Linked DNA regions of Homo sapiens. The protein of the gene in region 1 interacts with the protein of each later gene in a pairwise test. Each region holds a gene or a part of one and is shown in the gene's direction. Other genes may lie near its edges. The genes, in order: TIMM23 and SLC16A7.

The links.
Region 2: the proteins of TIMM23 (region 1) and SLC16A7 interact in binary tests that used the Homo sapiens proteins (3 or more experiments, as listed by UniProt).

The regions. Positions count from the first base shown.
Region 1 is NC_000010.11:45,981,383-45,991,014, forward strand, and holds part of TIMM23 (mitochondrial import inner membrane translocase subunit Tim23), read left to right. Parts: intron 1-1,140; coding exon 1,141-1,234; intron 1,235-1,463; coding exon 1,464-1,548; intron 1,549-3,225; exon of another isoform or gene 3,226-3,429; intron 3,430-4,000; coding exon 4,001-4,059; intron 4,060-7,354; coding exon 7,355-7,465; intron 7,466-9,632. UniProt on the Homo sapiens protein: Essential component of the TIM23 complex, a complex that mediates the translocation of transit peptide-containing proteins across the mitochondrial inner membrane.
Region 2 is NC_000012.12:59,591,333-59,600,814, forward strand, and holds the start of SLC16A7 (monocarboxylate transporter 2), read left to right. Parts: upstream 1-4,696; 5' UTR 4,697-4,904; intron 4,905-9,482. UniProt on the Homo sapiens protein: Proton-coupled monocarboxylate symporter. Catalyzes the rapid transport across the plasma membrane of monocarboxylates such as L-lactate, pyruvate and ketone bodies, acetoacetate, beta-hydroxybutyrate and acetate.

The DNA.
Region 1 (9,632 bases):
CAGTTTAATACTAAGTCATTATTTAAAAGTTGAAGTACCCAAAATTTATAAAACTCTATACAATTATATTATGACATGGGATCTATTCAGATTTTATTATTGCCCAACAGACCATTCTTATGTGATGAGAGTGGATGTGTTTGTTTACTTTTGCAATTTTTGGTGAGGATGTGTGCACATGCCAGAAAGAAAAAACCAAGGCAGAACCACAGTTTTCTGATTAGGAATACAATTTTCTGAATCAACGTTCAGTATTTGCCACAAGGATGTAGGAGAATGTTAATTGTCAGTGGTCTTTACTATGTTAAATGTAACACACTATGTGTCTTTTTGCCAAGGGTGTGACCTAGCCATTAGAGGCTTATTTTAACCATCTTTGGTTGGAAAGCTTGCCAAAAATGAGTGTGATTTTATTTTTTTAATCCAACATGGTGATAAAATTTTGTTTGTTTTTTTGAGTGTGTTTTTCATAAAGGTGCATTGACTCTTCAAAATTGGTAACCATATTTTGCTCTTAAGAGTGTCATTTCTCAGTCTTAGTATTTTGGATGACCTTCCAGGGGTTCATGCCACATTTTGTGTATGCAATTACTAGAAATAGGGTCTATAGCTTTCTGAGAGTATCAAAGGAATATATACTCCTTAAACAGATAAGAATTATTAAAGGGGGTCATTTGCCCTTGCATAATTGATCCAAACTGTTGTACTTTATTAGTTTTTGCTCATGTTTGTGAACATTTGGCTTTATACATAGAAAAATGCACAATAAATAGCTGCTACAGAATGAAAGTTATTTGTTTCTTCCAGACTGATTGTCTGTTCTGTTCTTCTCATAGCTTTCAGTGTTCCTTTCTCTAGAGCTGTCCTTTCTAAACACTTTTGCACAAATCTATCAGATTTACGTTTTGAAGGAAACAAAGTCTTTAATGAGACTCCCTTCTAAGAACTATGTTTCGTATTTCATTTCACTTTGATTTAGGTGTTACTGCTGCAGAAAGTTTTATTTTTGTTTAAGTATAGGTTTGAGTTAATTTAAGGTTTATTTTCTGTGAAAAACTACTTTGAAATGTTAAAAAGGCAACTTTACAAGATTTGTGTCTTGAGGGACACTCAGCTTGGTTTTCATTATTATCCTTTTAGGATACAGATGAGTTTATTTTACCTACCGGAGCTAATAAAACCCGGGGCAGATTTGAGCTGGCCTTCTTTACGATTGGAGGATGTTGCATGACAGGTGAGTGTTACATACTTTTTTCTCAAGAGTGCTCAGTTCAAGTAGTTGAGGGTGCGTAAAATCAAAAGCAATTAGAATGTTGGTTTCAGGGTTTTTTTTTTAATATTTACATTTGTCTTTTTCTATTAAATAAAAATGAAAAAGAATCAGAAGTGTAGTTATGCAGATTTGAGTTTGTTTTTTTAATATAAAGCTGTCTTTATCTGGGTGAATTGTTATGATTTACCAGGGGCTGCGTTTGGTGCAATGAATGGTCTTCGGCTAGGATTGAAGGAAACCCAGAACATGGCCTGGTCCAAACCAAGAAATGTACAGTAAGTCTCTTGTAACCATCTGATGTAGTGATACTTGAATATTAAGCTCTGTTGTATTGGTTTGATGAGTACAACCTTGAGATTACAGATGGTTAGCATAGTTATGTGCTTTTTTGTCTTTGTTTTTTAATCTTAATCAAAATAAAAGCAACTAAGGAATCAGATTACTGACTCTAAGCTTTTAAAAAGGAGTGATTTTTTTAATCAGTGTCCCTCAGTCAGCTAGTGCTATGCCAGCCTGACTTCTCAGCTGCACCTGTTACATTCTCCAACCCTATGTGACTTGCTTTTCAAATTGTTGAGTTGCTAATGGGAATTTTGGATTGTTTGGGGGCATGCAGATCCATAGGAAATGGTAATGAAGAATAAGCAGCTCATGAGAGTGATGGCTCAAGCTGCCATCATTTAACTTGAAGTTCTTACTGTCTTGACTTTATGTTTCCGAAATGATGAGCCAGATACATTTTAAATAAAATTTTTAGAATTAGAGTTAATTCCAAAAGGATAAGACACAGTTTTCTGTTAGAACTTGAAGTTACAGAGAAGGGAAAGTACAGTTAAAAGGATCGGAAAGTATGTTTTCACCCAACTTAAGAAGTAAACATGGCCAGTCCCTCTTGATATTCCTTAAACAATATGTTTAGTTTTGCCCATTTTTATGCTTCATGTAAGTGGAATCATGAGTATGTATTCTTCGATGGCTACTGTTTTGTTTTAGGACACTTTAAACTCCATCTTCCTTTCATATTGTTCAGCCAGCAGATGGCACCAGATGTGCTAGAATTAGACCATGGGAAACTGGAAGGCCTGTTAAATTGTGTGGTTTTTTGAGAGACAGGGCCTTGCTGTGTTGCCTGAGCTGGAGTGCAATGGCGCCATCACAGCTCACTGTAGCCTTGACCTCCTGGGCTCAAGTGATCCTCCCACCTCAGCCTCCCGAGTAGCTGGGACTACAGGCACATGCCACCATGCCCAGTTAATTTTTTAATTTTTTGTAGAGACGGGGTCTCACTGTATTGCTCAGGCTGTTCTCAAACTCCTGAGCTCAGGTGATCCTCTTGCCTCAGCCTTCCAAACTGCTGGGATTACAGATGTGAGCCACTGCGCCTAGCCCTGTTAAGTTTTTTATATTCCTGTTACTGTGTGGATCTCTGTCCATGCTTTACCAGCCTAGATCCTTCAATATTTTTATTACTTGTCCCTCGCTTCAATAATATTTTTAAGTTTTTGTATTATGGGGAATTTTGAATATATAAAAGTAGACAAAATACATAGCATAGTGAACACATGAACCATAACGCATCCTCAACAACCATCAACCATGGCCAGTTCTATCCCATTTCCTTCTCCTCTCCCATCTTATTTTGAGACAAAAACCCCAATATCATATTAAATACAAATTTGGAAGTAGATCTCCTAGAAAAGACAACTTGCTTCCTTTCTTAAAACAAGTTATTAAAATGCTTGTTAAAAATGAAAAAATGATGGCTGAACTTAAAATATGTTAGTAAATATGTAACATAATTAGAAACAATATACTTCTGTTTGTAAACATTACTGATTTTTTAAAACAATCTTTTAGAAAATACAAATTTTTGTTTCTGTAGAACATTAATTGAGTCGTTTAATAATTAAACTGAATGAGTTCCTTCACTCTTTGTTACTGTATTTCCATAATTTCCAGCAGTAGTCAGCTGTCTGGACAGAACCATTCCTGGGATCATGTTACACTGCTGGGAGAAGAATGTCTTCTCTTCATCCAGTTGCGTCCATCACTGTTCTGGTGGTGTCTGGCACTGGTGCAAGGCAGAACTGTGCTTCCTTGAGAGTGTGCTGAGCATTCACCTTGGCTGCTTGGTTCTAGTCTAGGAGCAGACACAGGGTGCTTTCCCCATGTATTCTAGTTAGATGGCTGATTCCTTCTCTTTAATTCTACTTTATATTCTGTACTTTGATATTCTTTACTTTATATTCTGTACTTTGATATTCTTTACTTTGATTATCTTTAACATTCTAAGCATATGTTCCCCTCCCAAAAAGAACCTTTTAGAAGCTAGCTCGCCATAGTTAACAGTGGCATTTTTTACATAGATTAGTTTCTGTAAACCTCTGTAAGATACATTCCAGGCTGTCATTCAAAGCCTTATATATATTTAATGTGTATTCATTATATTATACATTTAATAATAAGAGTTTTCCTTATTATTATTATTAAGGACTTATATAAAAGTCCTTAAGACTTTTGCCTAAAGTTTTGAAAGTTTTAACCTAATTTTCACTTATGTAGAGTAAAAACCATCCTTATTGAAATCGGAGATATTAAGATGTATTTTAGAATTTAAAAAACTTTGCGCCCTGGGTCTAGACATGTTAAATAGCCATTATTGTTTTTAAAGGTTACTAGAGAAATAATGATTCTAAATACAGATTCTTTCTCTTTCTGCCCTGATAGGATTTTGAATATGGTGACTAGGCAAGGGGCACTTTGGGCTAATACTCTAGGTTCTCTGGGTAAGTAGAGATCTCATTTGATAATAAATTGTTAAAGAAAGAATGCACAAATATCATGAACAATTTGATCAACCCATATTCTGGTCCTAGGATATGAGACAATTATGTTTAAACCCATTCCAATGCATAATGTAGATACTACTTAGGGAAAGACCATGAACTAACTTATGAAATAATCTCAGGTGCTAATACCGTTCTGAATACCATTGCTGAATTTTTAAAATCTTTTGGACACTGCACACTCTCCTTTCCAAGCACAACACCCAATAAAATCATGTTTAAATGAAATCCAGGTAATTTAGGTCCAAAGTAAAGAGCTTTGTATGTTAGGCAAGGTTCAAGGTCCTGTAGTGATACATGATAAATTAATCCAGCCCTCTTGCTATGTTTTCTTAATAGCCGGTTCATTAGTCTGTTTACCTGAGTAGATTTCAGGCACCTAATTGCCACAATTGGAATAGGTTCCTTGTAGATAATGAAAACGTTTGCAGTTCTAGGCAAAAGGTAACTTAGTAGTGCTTAGTCAGAGCCTTATGCTTTCATACCATATTGTTTATGAATGATTGATCACTTACAATAGATCTCTTATGGCTTATGTCCTGACATCCAAAATTTTCCTACTGTATGAACTTAGTTGAAAATCTCAATTTAAATTGTGGCAGATTAAGGAGGGGAAGACATAGAAAACTCATTGAAAACATAGAAAAAGCGTTTGTTATGGCAGGGTAAGGTCCTGCCTTGTCACAGAATTTGGAAGCAGTACATCTTCACACTGTAAAGCTAGTTTTCACACTTTGGATCCTAAGAGATGGCTGCTTTCATATGTTGCTGATGTCTGCATTCCTCCCACCCTCCTACAGAGTCACCCCGCTCTGTTTCTTTTAATTGCTTGTATACCTAGAGTAGTCAGCTGTCCTTGTCTGCGTAGGACTGTCAGAGAAAAGTCCAAGAAACTATGTTCCAATAATCACCCCCCGCCCACCCCGCCCCACAGTCCTGGACAAACTAGAATGGCTGGTCACCCTCTGTGTACCCATTGTGGTATGATCAAGAAGGGTGTTCTGCTCGTGATCAGTTTCAGTTAAATAAGTTGAAGAGGAAGATGAGCTTTCATAGAAGTATAAAAATACTGCAGTAGAGGAGTTGTAAGGCTGAGCGCGGTGTATTGTTGCAAGGGGCAAGTGTAGCTATAATTTTGAGAAAGAGTTTAAAAGTTTAACATTCGTTCCAGATAGGAATCTGCAAGAGCATAGAAGGATGGCTTGGGGGAAGATACTTTAAAATGAAATGGTGCTAGTGTTATAATACGTGAGAATCAAACCTCACTTTTTTTTTAATCTATTTTTTCTTATACTAGAAATACGTGTGTGTGTGTGTGTGTGTATGTGTGTGTCTTTAATCTGAAGTATAGCAATTATGGGTAGCATATAAATGAAAATTTTAAATATTCTTCCTGAGACTTCCTAGCGGTACTTTCTAGAAATAGCTACTATTGATGTTTCTTCTGAATTCTTCCAGGCGTTTCTCTGCATAGCCAGTCAGTCGTGTACCATGTGCACATGTCCCTGATTTACTTATTAGTGAAAATGATTCTTCTGGTTTTTAAGTGACTGTATAGTATTCCATTATATGAAAAGTCCCTCTCTGGATCAATTCAGATGGTACAAATGCTCTTGATGGGCATTTTATTTGTTGCCAGGTGTTTGCTATTAGAAACTGTTCTAGTGATCATTCCATGTATATCTTTGGATAAATTTTTCTAAATATAATTGCCATACTGACTTTTGTGTTGAAAAAAAAAAAACAGTTTTTCCTCTGCTCTCACACTACAACAGTCAACATAGGATAGTTCTGTGACCAGTTATGTGGGAATATTTCCCCACATACCAAGTAATCTCTCTTGCAGTGGACACCAGTTGGGTGTCCACCTGTTTCACTTCTGCCTGGAGATAGCATTAGATCAGCAGGTTGAGCACTCTGTCCCACAAAACTGAGCCCCACTTTGGATACTTCTGATGCTGATAGCAAGCTCCAGGTTATTTTACCTGTGCTTCTGACCAACCAGCTTTGTCAGGGTTTCCCACAACCCACTCTTTGGGTTTGATTAATTTATTGGATTGGCTCACAGAACTCGAGGGAACACATACTTAACATTTGCGTATTTATTATAAAGATTTTTTTTTTTTTTTTTTTTTTTTTGAGACAGGGTCTTGCTCTGTCACCCATGCTAGAGTGCAGTGGAGCTCACTGCAACCTAGACTTCTGGGCTTAAGCAAGCCTCCCACCTCAGCCTTTCAAGGAGCTGGGACTACAGGCAACATGCACCACCATACCAACTAATTTTTTTTTAAATTTTTTTAGAGAAGGGGGTATCCCTATGTTGTTGCCCAAACTGGTCTCTGACTCCTGGGCTCATGTGATCTTCCCACCTCGGCCTCCCAAAGTGCTGGGATTACAGAAACTTTGTGAGCCACCACACCTGGCTGGATATTTTTAAAGGATACAAATAGCCCAGTCAAGGAATACATAAGGTGAGGCCTGGATGGGCCCTGAGTGCAGGAGCTTTCATTTCACTGGAGTTGGGGTGCACTAGCCTCCTGACACGTGGGTGAGTTCTTTCTCACTTTCCTGCAAGTCCCATGAGTTCAGCTGTCCAGAAAGTCCTCCGACCCCATCCACTTGGGCCTCATGTGGAAAATTGATTGGATAGGCATGACTGAAGCATGGACAACCTTATAGAACTGTGATTGGACAAAAAGGGCATGCTCTACTACTAATAGACTGGGCACAGAAACCCAGCAAGGCCTGCCTGCCCAGATTCTCCCTTGGCCTTTCTGTGCAGCATTTCTTCTTCCTGGGTATGGGGTACGATCTTTTCTGAAATGGGGGTCTTACAGCCTGCAATCAGACAAGGTAGGTCATAGAATTTCTTTATGGCCAGTTCCAAGACAGAAAGGTGTGGGGAAAGATTAGAGTCCTGCTGTGGGGAGAAAAGGGAGTAGGTGAAAGGAGGGCAGGAGAAGGTCAGAGAGAGAGATTCTGTTTCTGAGGCTGCTTCTGAGGCCTGAAGTGCCCCAGTAATACAACAAAAGACCTTCACCTTTGTCCCTCTGAAGCTGTTCCAAAGCTGATTCCAGAACCAAGGACAAATACCTTAACAAGTGATTGTTTTAGTCACTTAGGAAGGGCTATGGGAGTTATGAGCTAGGAACCATGGATGAAAACCAATATATGTATATCATAATATCACACTTTATCACTGTTTTGTCACTGAGCACTTCCATTTCCTCTTTAGCTTTGCTCTATAGTGCATTTGGTGTCATCATTGAGAAAACACGAGGTGCAGAAGATGACCTTAACACAGTAGCAGCTGGAACCATGACAGGCATGTTGTATAAATGTACAGGTGAGTACTGTTGAATGGGGAGCCATCTCTTAATACACTTGAAGTGCGCTTTTTAAAATTCATGGTTTTCAAGGAAATTACACTCTGTTGCAGTATAATCTAGTGTTCTAACTTTATGGTTATTTTGGTTTGGTTTGGTTTTTAATTGTGGTAAAATAAACATAAGATTTACCCATCTTAACCATTTTTAAGTATACAGTACATTAGTATTATAGTCACATGATTATATAACCAATCTCTGGAACTTTTTCATCTTGCAAAACTGATACTCTGTACCTATTAAGCCTCCCAATTTACCACTTCCTTAGCTCTTGATAATGTTACACTTTCTGTCTCTGAATTGGCTGCTTTAGGCACCTCATATAAGTAGAATCATACAATATTTGTCCTTTTTTGATTGGCTTATTTTACGTAGCATAATATCCTCAAGGTTCATCCATGTTGTTGCATGTGCCAGAATTCCCTTCCTTTTTAAAGCTAAATAATATTCATTCTGTGTATGTATACCACATTTTGCATGTGCGTTCTTTTATCAAGGAATATTTGGGTTGCTTCTACCTTTTGGCTATTGTGAATAATGCTGCTACGAATATGGATGTACAAATATCTCTTCAAGGTCCTTCTTTCTTTTTTTGGATATATGTGCAGAAGTGGAATTCTTGGATCATATGGTTTATGGTGGTTTTTTGACATTAAGAATATAAGATTCTTTTCTGTATTTTTCATTCATTTTAGTTTAGTTTTTTTAATCTTGGACAGACTAAGCAATAGAATATTCAGAATTGTTGGTTTTGTTTTAAACAATAGTTTGACCTGTGACATCAGCATATTAAACTATCACAAGACACACACAAGGTCAAAGCCCAGGAATGGCTTCCCTGTAAGTCAATTTAGAGCATCTTATTCCTATGATCATCTTACTCTACTGGGAGATCAACGTGTTGCTGTCAAGGGTCAGATAATTCTCTTCTGTGATAAGTTTTACTAGTTTAGAAGCATACATTCAAGTAATGCCTAATTTAGCTTTTTTATTGTGTTGATACATCTTTGGCTACTTAATTTTTATTTTTATCAAAATAATCCACATACGTGATTTTTTAAGTCAAGGTTTTTATCTTAACATCTAAAAGATTTTAATGATGTTTAATCCACATACATGATTTTTTAAGTCAAGGTTTTTATCTTTTTAACATCTAAAAGATTTTAGTGATGTGCAACAGTGTTCTATACGTCTCACCTTAATTCCCTTTTCCCAAAGGCAACTTTTAATTTTTTTTTTTTTTTTTTTCTTTTTTGAGACGGAGTCTAGGTGTCACCCAGGCTGGAGTGCAGTGGCATGATCTCAGCTCACTGCAACCTCCACCTCCTGGGATCAAGCAGTTCTCCCATCTCAGCTTCCTGAGTAGCTGGGACTGGAGGCACATACCATCACATCTGGCTAATTCTTGTATTTTTAGTAGAGACAGGGTTTCACCATATTGGTCAGGCTGGTCTCAAACTCCTGACCTCAGGTGTTCCACCCTCCTCAGCCTCCCAAGTGCTAGGATTACAGGCGTGAGCCACCACTCCCAGCTTATTTTAATTTTTTTTTTAAGACAGAGTCTCACTCTGTCATCCAGGCTGGAGTGCAGTGGCACAATCAAGGCTCACTGTAGCCTTGACCTCCTGGGCTCAGGTGATCCATCTCAGCCTCCTGAGTAGCTGGGACTACAGGCACACGCCTCCACACCCAGCTAATTATTTTTTTTTTTCTTTATCGGAGATGGGGTCTCACTGTGTTGCCCAAGCTGGTCTTGAACTCCTGGGCTCAAGCAGTCATCCTGCCTCAGCCTCCCAAAGTGCTAGGATTGCAGATGTGAGCTACCATGCCTAGGCTGCTTTAATTCATTATTTTTTATTTTCATGTTTTTAAATAATATTATTATCTTGATTTTTCTTGACTTTTCAGTCTTACATATTGTCTGTTGACTTCCAAGAGGAAAGCTGTGTTAACTCCGCTAAGAATTGTACAAAATACGCTTAAAGTAGAAAGGAGGTCACATCCTTTATATAGGTCAGCTCATTTACCATTCTCTGAAGGTAGTAGACTGGTACTCCCTTGTTTTATAGACAAACTAAAATTCAGACAAGTTAAATTACCTCCACATGCTCACACAGCTCTGTCACG
Region 2 (9,482 bases), on another chromosome or scaffold:
CCACCGTTTACAAGATTTCTGCCTGAAAAGTTTACAGTCTATGATGATAACTTTTAATTTAAGTTTCTAATCTTATATGCATTCAAAATAATCAGAATATTTACGTGGTAAAGCATCTATAAAACACCCAGAATCCATTAAGTTTAGTTTACAGATAATAATTGATAAAATGTAAATTTAGAAAAATACCCCAACAAACAAGTTTTTTAATACATAATCCGTTAAGAGATTTTTGGAGCCAAAAAACCCATTTTGTTTTAAACCAAAGATTCTTGTGTGCTATTATTTAAAGGCATACCATACAGCAATGCCAATGCAATTGATTCCCCTTTTATATGCTTTGTTGAATCGGACTAGATTGTCATTCCCCAAAATCCTATGGGAGTTTTTCATAGAAGATATTTCCAAAGTAGCCTATATAGATATACGCAAGATTTAAATCTAGAAGTAGTGGAGATATATTTCTATAGTTTGTATAATCTGTGAAACCAGGTCACAGCAATCATATTCACAGCTGCTAGCCAGCTACAATCTCAACCATAGTATGTTGCCACTTGAAGGCAGGTGTACATTTGTTTTCACCCAAGTTGAGGGGAGCATTGGGACATCTGGTCTTTTGTACTTAGCTATAACAAATCTATTGTGTGTAGTTTATAAACACACACACCCTTAATTTAATCTCACAGTCTTACTCTGAAAAGGCTATTATATGAATTTTGGGGTCATGAGACTATATTTTTAGTTTTGACTTAAGGACACATTAGTGCACTTTCAAAAGTTCAATGTTTCATTGGGGATTTTATGCCTTTATGATTTACAATTTCTTTTTTCGAGACGGAATTTTGCTCTTGCTGCCCAGGCTGGAGTGCAGTGTTGCGATCTTGGCTCACTGCAACCTCTGCCTCCCGGATTCAAGCGATTCTTCTGCCTCAGCCTCCCGAAGTACCTGGGATTACAGGTGCCCACCACCTCACCTGGCTAATTTTTTTTTTTTTTTTTTGTATTTTTAGTTGAGATGGGTTTTCACCATGTTGGCTAGGCTAGTCTTGAACTTCTGACCTCAGGTGATCTACCTGCCTTGGCCTCCCAAAGTGCTGGGATTACAAGCATGAGCCACCACGCCTGGCTGACTTATTGTCTTTTTCAGTAATATCTTATATTGGTCAGAATAGGCTAGGTTTTGTTCCCATGACAAATAGAGCCTGAAATTTCCAAGGCTTAAAACAATGGTCTCTTGCTCACACAAAGTACAGTGCAATTCAAGCAGTCTTTCTTTCTTTTTCAGAGATTCCATTTTGTAGCTAGTTCATCAGAAACATGGTACTATGGCAGGGAAAGGGAGTGATGAAGGAGGTACACTGGGTCTTAACTCCCTTTACCAGAAATTACACATGTCACTTCCATTCATACTGTTTTAGAACTACATAGTTGCATGGTCCCAATATAACTGTAAGGAAAGCCAGGAAGTGTGGAGCCAGGCAGATCATAGATATTGTGAGCACCAATAGCTTCTACCACATATCTGTTGCCTACAGCCACACTGTCATCTCTTTTCTTCATTTGGCAAACGTTACTATTTTCTATCTGCAACGATTTGTGCTGCATGATAGATGATTCTGTTACCCGAAAGGGGTACTGATTCAGACCCCAAGAGAGGGTTCTTGGATTTCATGCAAGAAATAATTTGGGATGAGTCTATAAATGAAAGCAGGAGTACTAGGAAAGTAAAGGAACAAAAAAATGGCTACACCATAGGCAGAGTAGCAGCATGGGCTGCTCCGCTGCTTATACTTATTATTACCTCTTGATTATATGTTAACAAGAGATGGATTATTCATGAGTTTTCTGGGAAAGGGGTGGGAAATTCTGGGAACTGAGGGTTTCTCCCCATTTTAGACCATATGGGGTAACTTCCTGACCTTACCATGGCATTTGTAAACTGTCATGGCACTGGTGGGAATGTCTTTTAGCATGCTAATGCATTGTAATTAGCACATAATGAGGAGTGAGGAGGACCAGAGGTCACTTTCGTCTCCATTTTGGTTTTGGTGGGTTTTAGCTGGCTTCTTTACTGCCGCCTGTTTTATCAGCATGGTCTTTATGACCTGTATCTTGTGCCAACCTCCTATCTTATTCTGTGACTAAGAATGCCTTAATCTCCTGGGAATGCAGCCCAATAAGTCTCAGCCTCATTTTACCCAGGCCTTACTCAAGATGGAGTCACTCTGGTTCAAATGCCTGTGACAATCCCAGAGATGAATAAAATGTCATCTCTACTTTCAAATAGCCTAATATATTGGGGCTACAGAAACAAAAATCATATTATAATATAGTCATATGTGAAGCTGAAACAAAATGCCCCAGATAGAGGCCTAAATCATTTTCTATGGGCAGGATCACAGAGAAAGATGAACTTAACCCTTATTTGTTAACAAAGAATCCTTAAAATGCTATAGAAGTGATGATATATTTGCTGGGCATTAAAGGAGGAAAAAAGGTTTAGACAAGTTTGATATGGAAAAGAGGGCAGTGAATGATAAAAGACAGAAAAATGTGAGAAGATTGTGTATGACTGAGGAATGAAGAAGGGAGAAAGAACCTAAACCACAAGGATGTGGGTATATAGTAAAAGACATGTGGACTTCATGAGTATATATGTGATGTACGTATTCACAGTTTGCTCATCTGTGGAATATGAGTTGCTAGAATGCTAAGTGTATTGCTATTTGTTTTTCCCACTGTTATTTCAGCTTATGAATATAAATCAAGGCAAACATTTTACCAGAGCATTCCAAGTTCTAATCATATGGCTTATTTTTTCCCTAAATTGTATTTTTTTCTCAATTTCTTAACAATATTAAACTGTAAGTCATAGGATAAACTGGCTGAATTTATTCTTAGCTGATTCTCCCTCCTTTCAGATACCTTTCTAGTCCAATCAAATTTTACATAACATACCTAGCTATCACAACAAAGCAATTTAGAAATGAGTTCCCAAATACTAACTCTGTGACAGTAGGTAAATTAGATCCAGAGTTTTAATTGTTGAAAAAACAAGACTTAAAAAGAAGGTTACGATATCATGCTATAAGTAGTGATGTTTGGCATTCAGCAATAGGTTAAACAGGTCAAGAACATGGGACTATAAGAAAAAAACAACAAAAAAGAAAAATCAAAGAGAAGGAAAAGGGAGAATAGGATCAAAATTCAGAAAGCATATGGTCTTTCTTCTTCCTCTTCTTTGACAGGAAATAAAAGTGATGAATGAGCAGGAAAAATATCAATAGCAAACACTCAAGACTATGACCTTGAAATGTGCCTTTATGTTGTTTCTTTTAAATGTTTAACTTTTTTTAATTAAATGAAGTGTTTATAGTCACTGCTAGACATTTCATCATTATCAAAGGCCTATTATGTCTTATACAAATGTCTATTTAAGCATTTTTAGCTTAAAAATATAAAATCCTTTCTGTAATTTTCTGCCTTTTTTTCATTTTCAAATATCATTCTTTCAATAAAATTATCTTCCAGTAATTTTGATGTTATTAATCACGATTATTTTTTCATCTTGTATTATGCCTACCAGCCACTTCATGTATATTATTTCACTTAAATCTTATGAAATCAACACGATTGATATTACTTTTATTTCATAGCTACAGAAATTGAAATTCAAATTTCGTCCATTACAACAGACTAGCTGTGGCAAAGACAATGTGAATTTACCCAAATGACTTAACTCTTTTTATAAATTCGTAAAATGTGAAGAATCATAGAACACACCTTAAAATGATTGTGAAATCAAGGAGGAGAAAGCTAGCTAAACTGGTAGACAAACTGCAATAGGACTTGTCAAGCCAAAACCTACAATTATTCTTTTGGATAGTTTCTTTTTCTCTAAAGTGGCAATTTAACTTAAAGATATTAAAGAAACCCAATCTATGGGGTTACTTAAATGTTCTCTTCCAGCCCTTCCTCTTTCCAGTTTTACCAAGAAGCACATTTTAGACAGGGGAAGAGACCAAACCAATGACAGCAGAATTACCATTATCTCTAGCACTATTCGTTGTCAAATAACTAAATGCTGGTTTGAAGAACTAAGTAATTTGAGAAATTAAAAATGAAAGGAATTATAAATGATTTGAAAAAAAATCCTTCTTATTTTTAATGTTTTTTGGTGCTGTTTTCTATGTCCTTCCTCCTATGGTGTCAATTATATTTTTTTCCGTGAAGTGATTTGGTTGGTGAGTCTAATCTCCAACAGTGCCCTACCTCTTTCTCCCAAAAAGGCCTCAGTTGAAAAATGGCTCAACACTTTCCCTGCAAGCTCACAATGAGGATCTCCTATTCTCCCTGCATTCGGCCAGACTCTTCTTTTTTTGCATGCTTTCCTCTCCCATGCTTGGGTTGCACAGAGCTACCGCACATCTGTCTTCTAGGTCAGGCTACAGAGTACTTCGGATACAGCAAGTTACGACCCATCTGGAAAGACAGATCTACCTGCCTTTTGGCTTTCTTCCTTGGTCAAAACTAAAATCCGAAGTGGAGTGCCCCGAGCGATAGAGAAAGTGCCTATAGCTTTGACAGCCGCTTGGAGCATGCTCAGTCGGTCTCCAGGCACCGGGAGGCGGCTCCCCCCCACCACCCCCCGGGCCGGCCTCCACCGCAGCCTGTCCGGCCCCCACCCCTGGCGCGCGCTCCTCCGCACCCACAAGGGCGTTCAGCAGCCGCGCCTCCCCTTCCCGCCACCGCCTCCTTCTCCGCTGGCTGTGGCGGGCGAGGACACGTCAGGGGCCATAAATAAATAAATAATTCCATTCACCCGTTGACAGCGAGGCGAATCGGCTGCGGTTTGCTGGGAACGGAGGGCTGCAGCGCCCACCCTGCGCCAGAGACCAGATAAAGTAAGTACAGCTGGGGAGGGAGGGGAGAGGAGGAGGAGGAGGAGGAGGTGCCGGCTAAGAGGAGGGCGAGCCTGCGTCTGCGACCCGAGCTGCCCGCGGAGCCGCACGCGTGTGTGCAAATAATGGCCAGCCTGTGACAAACGTGCCAACGCAGAGTTGGCCAGCGAGCCCTTATATAGACAAAAAAATCCCGAAGCGGCCGCGGGAGCAGAGCTCGCGTCAGCCAGTGCGCGCCGACAGCTGCCCGGGAACTGAGGGGGCGCGCGGGGTCCTGGGCAAGGAGCGCCTCGCGTGCTTTCGGCCAGGAGGTGCTCACGCTCTCGGCTTTTACACCGAGACTCAGCGTGGCGCGGTGCACCCCAGTCTCCCTGGCTCACGGGACTCCGAGGGCTGCTTCCAGTGCGGCGTGTCTCTAGTGCGCGCCCCGCCAGCATCCGGCCCCCGAGCCCCCTAGGGTGGCGTGGCTTCATTGCCGCAGAAGGTGGAGGCGGGGGTGGAGTGTGTGGAGAGAACGTCTTCTCTTTGAGCAGATGATCAGGACAGGAAGAGGCTGTGAGGGGAAGACGAAATACCGGGGGATGGGGGGGTTGTCTTTCTTCATTTTTGGTCCCCAGGAAGGATGGCAGGGGTGGAAGCAGATGGAAAACTATATGCGGGCGAGGCCTGAGCCCAGGCAGAAAGGGACCTCTGACTTGGCAAGGGTTCAGGAGGGCCTGAGCCTTCTGGTCTTGCTGGGCCACTGCACCACATTGGGGGCGCCAGGCCCGGTCAGGTGGCGCCACAGGCTGCGAGCCCGCTCACGTGCGAACTGCCTGTTTTCTCAGCGGATGCTGCATCGCGGCGCCCTTCTCCACCCCCTTTTCTCCTCTACTTCCGCGAAAAGGATTGCAGACTGCCTTGGAAAGGGCGGTCGTGCCCAGTGCCACTTTCCCGGTAGGGCTGAGGAGGGACTTCTGTAGTTCCAATTCCAGGGAAATTAAAATTTTACACACACACACACACACACACACACACACACACACACACACACACACGAGACATAGAAGAGGAAACGAGGAGTGGTTTCTCTACAATTGTTTTTTGATTTCCTTTCCTGTATTATTTCGTGTCCTCCTTCCCTCTTGGGTCCCAAAGGAGATGCGGCAGAGGAATAAAATAGCGGACAATGATGAAAGTGATGGGAAAAAGACTGGACCCAGAGGAAAGAGTGACTACTGGATGCCATTTCCTGTCACCCCATGCTTCATGGCTAACCCCAGTCTGAACTCAGAGGGTTGCAAACTTTCCACAGACAGGTTAGCTTGAATGTGTTGTGTTACTGGAACCACAAGCACTAAGTATGCATTTGGTGGAGTGTGGCTGAAAAATGAGAGTTGGGTGGGGACAGCAGAGGGCAAATGAGGGTTGAGCAAAGTGACTAATATTTAGCTCTGGTGAAGCAATCCTAACTCCAGGTTCTACTTCTGACTGAGCAGATTACATTTAAAGCAATCCAAGTGAGGGACTGAATGATCTCAGTGGAAAGGAAAGATTACAACCGTAAGAAACTCAGTGTATTGTGTAACAACTTACAAACTCAGAAACTATTTTTTGCAAATACAACAACAGTTTGCAGTTACATATTACTTTTTTCCCCCCAAGGCATGTTTGAATAATAAGTGATCTGAAATTTTAACATCTGTTTCCCGATGTTCAAATTAGTGTATCCTTCTATAAATGCTCAGTTTATTTCTAGACATTCATTTGCTCTTTGATAATGTCTGGCTTATATTTTTGGCTTTGAGCTCTTTTAAAGGGAAGGAGAGCAACATTACCTAAATAAACCTCCCTTGTCTGGAGTCATATTCCTGGATCACGGATCTGAAATAAAAGGCATCTCCAGAATTTGCTTTTAATTCTGTATTCATCCACCAAACATTTTTGAGACATTCACATGGAAAAAGGGAATTAACTTTAGAACAGATTGGTTCTGCACTTTTGTAAGGTTGAGTAATTGTTTAACAATCTGGGCTTTACCTTTTTCTTGTCTATAAAATGAGATTGGTGGTACCCACTCTGAAGTGATATTGGGAAGAATGAAGTGTGTGGTAAGTACCTAGAATACAGACGGGCTATATTTGAGCCCCTATAATCAGTCTAGACACCCTACCAGGGTTGCCAAGATGAATGAGGCTGTAATTCTGCTTTCAAGAAGTTCTCATATAGTCAGTCATTCAGGTTAATCTTTCTTGTATCCCATTTGCCTTTTAGTCCATTTTTTTTCTCCTCTTGATGGAAGAAACATATATCCAAGTAACTTGAAAGGAACTCCACAGTTGTAAGAAATGTTGGTAAGATCTGCTAAAAGGCAAATTTGAGAAGAATGTCTTTTCTCAGGAACCTGTATTCAGCCCATTTTTTGTCCATTAATAGTGATCCTTAATGAATAAAAACAGGTAATGAAGGATTTTTCTTCATGTTATGAGGGCAGGATGATCCTTCTCTGAAGATTATCTTTGTCAATGAATTGATTTCCATTATTTGAGAGAAGAGTTTGAGTTGCAGTTTCTACTACACCTTGGGCAAACCAATCCACTCACTCCTAAGAGTATAAAGTAACTGTAGTATATAATAACTATAATGACAACTCTGTAATGCTCACCATATTCCAGGCACTGTGCTACTACTGTCTGATAGCATGTAGCAACCATTTGAGGTGGATCTGTCCATATCCATATTTACAGAAAAAAGAATTTATGCCCAGAAAGTTTCATAGCTTATTCAGCTGGTACAGTTAGTAAGTGGTTGAGCTGGGGCAAGCACCGATGCGATCTGTTTGGCTTTAACCACTGTGTCATATAGCTTCTGCCTTGCATGAAGCTAAATAAGAGCAAAGACCTTACCTGTTGTTTTCTCCATAGCCCAGTACAGTGTCTGGCATGTCATGGTTCAGAACAACTGATTATAGAAAGAAGGAAAGAGGGAGGGAAGCAGAACTAGAGGGAAGGAGGAAGAGGAGGAAATAAAAATTAGCAAGTCCAAGTGTCTCCCGCCTTCAACACTGAATCTGGCAGGAAATCCAGCATGAACTCTGCCCTGAGAACACAATAGTTGAGGCTCTTTTGAGGATTCCTTTTCCTTGTCTTGCATCTAATCATCTAGTTTATGATGCTCATTTATGCAGAATAGGAAAATATTCTCTTTGGTTTGACAAATTAGCAAAAGGTGCCCATGAAGTGCAAACATCAAAGAGTGACCTACTCAAGGTGGACCAGGAAAAAAAAAGAAGGAAGAAATTAAAAGGGCAGACCATAATGCAGGGGCACTGGATTTAAATTTTAGTTAAGCCACTGGCTGGCTTTGTCTTATGCAATGTTGTGGTAGTACTTGTATTGTTGTTCTGAACACCAAAGACGATAACAAATATAAGCTGTTTTATACTGTGCCTGATAAATAGAATGGCATGCGGCAAAGAATAATTACATTCTGTTATTGCCCTTTGTTCCCCTCCTCCCTTCAACTCATCCCAAATAAAAAGTACCCTCCTGTTTTCCACATCTTGAAGTAATCTGTGTTCATCTGAACTACTTCGTAACTTGATCTGGGCTTCTCTTAGGCTGATTCTTATATTTTACCTTGAATTACAATTATTTGGGAAGGCATCCTATCTCTCTTCCTGGGCTACATGGTCTTTGAGAGTAGATGGTATATCTGATTCATCTTGGAACCTCTGTGGAGCTGCTGCTTGGGACAGGACAGGGCAGACGAGGGGCTCTGAAGTCCAGCCTGTCTGGGTTTTGATTTTAGCTTTGCCACTTATCAACAAAGACAAGTTGCTAGACCTCTTTAAGTCTCGGTTTCTTCATGTGTAAAAATAGAATAGTAACCAATTTTGTATATTGGTTGTAAACATTAAATGAGATAATATCTGTGAAATAGCACTGTGCTGAGCACATACATAGAAATAACTCAATAACTACTTTTAGGTATTAAATATTTGGCTTTATGTTTTTTAGTTTATCATAAGCATCACTGGCTTATTTTTAACAGATTTTTGGGAACTCTGAAATGCCAAACTTGCCATTAGATGGCACAACAAAGTTGAATTGCATAATAAACCATTAAGTGGACTCCCTTTGAGAAGTCATCCTGGTTTGTCACAGGCTTTCTCAAAACTGTTTGGATCAAAGTGATTAAGAAATATCTTGGGAAACATCTGCACACTAGCTCTCAGTGAATAATGGAACTTTTTTTTTTTTTTAACTTGTGAGAAAGCTTCATTTTCTCAGTTGCTGCTATAAATGGTGAATCCAGGGGCTGAGTCTACCTATGTGAGAGATCCAGCTGTTTAAAATCATAATATGAGAGACTAGCCTAAAATGGACCATTGTCGAGAGGAATAAATAACACTTATCACACGTATTTGGTAATTAGTAAATAAGTGGAGGGTCTTTATATATCAACTGTAATCATTAAAAATGTGGGAGAAAATTAAACAAATTGGAGCTGACTATAATAAAACTAGTCCAGCTGGAGCTGGACTAACTGGGACTTGGGTGCACCATAGACAATTTCAACATATTCACAAATATCAGTGTT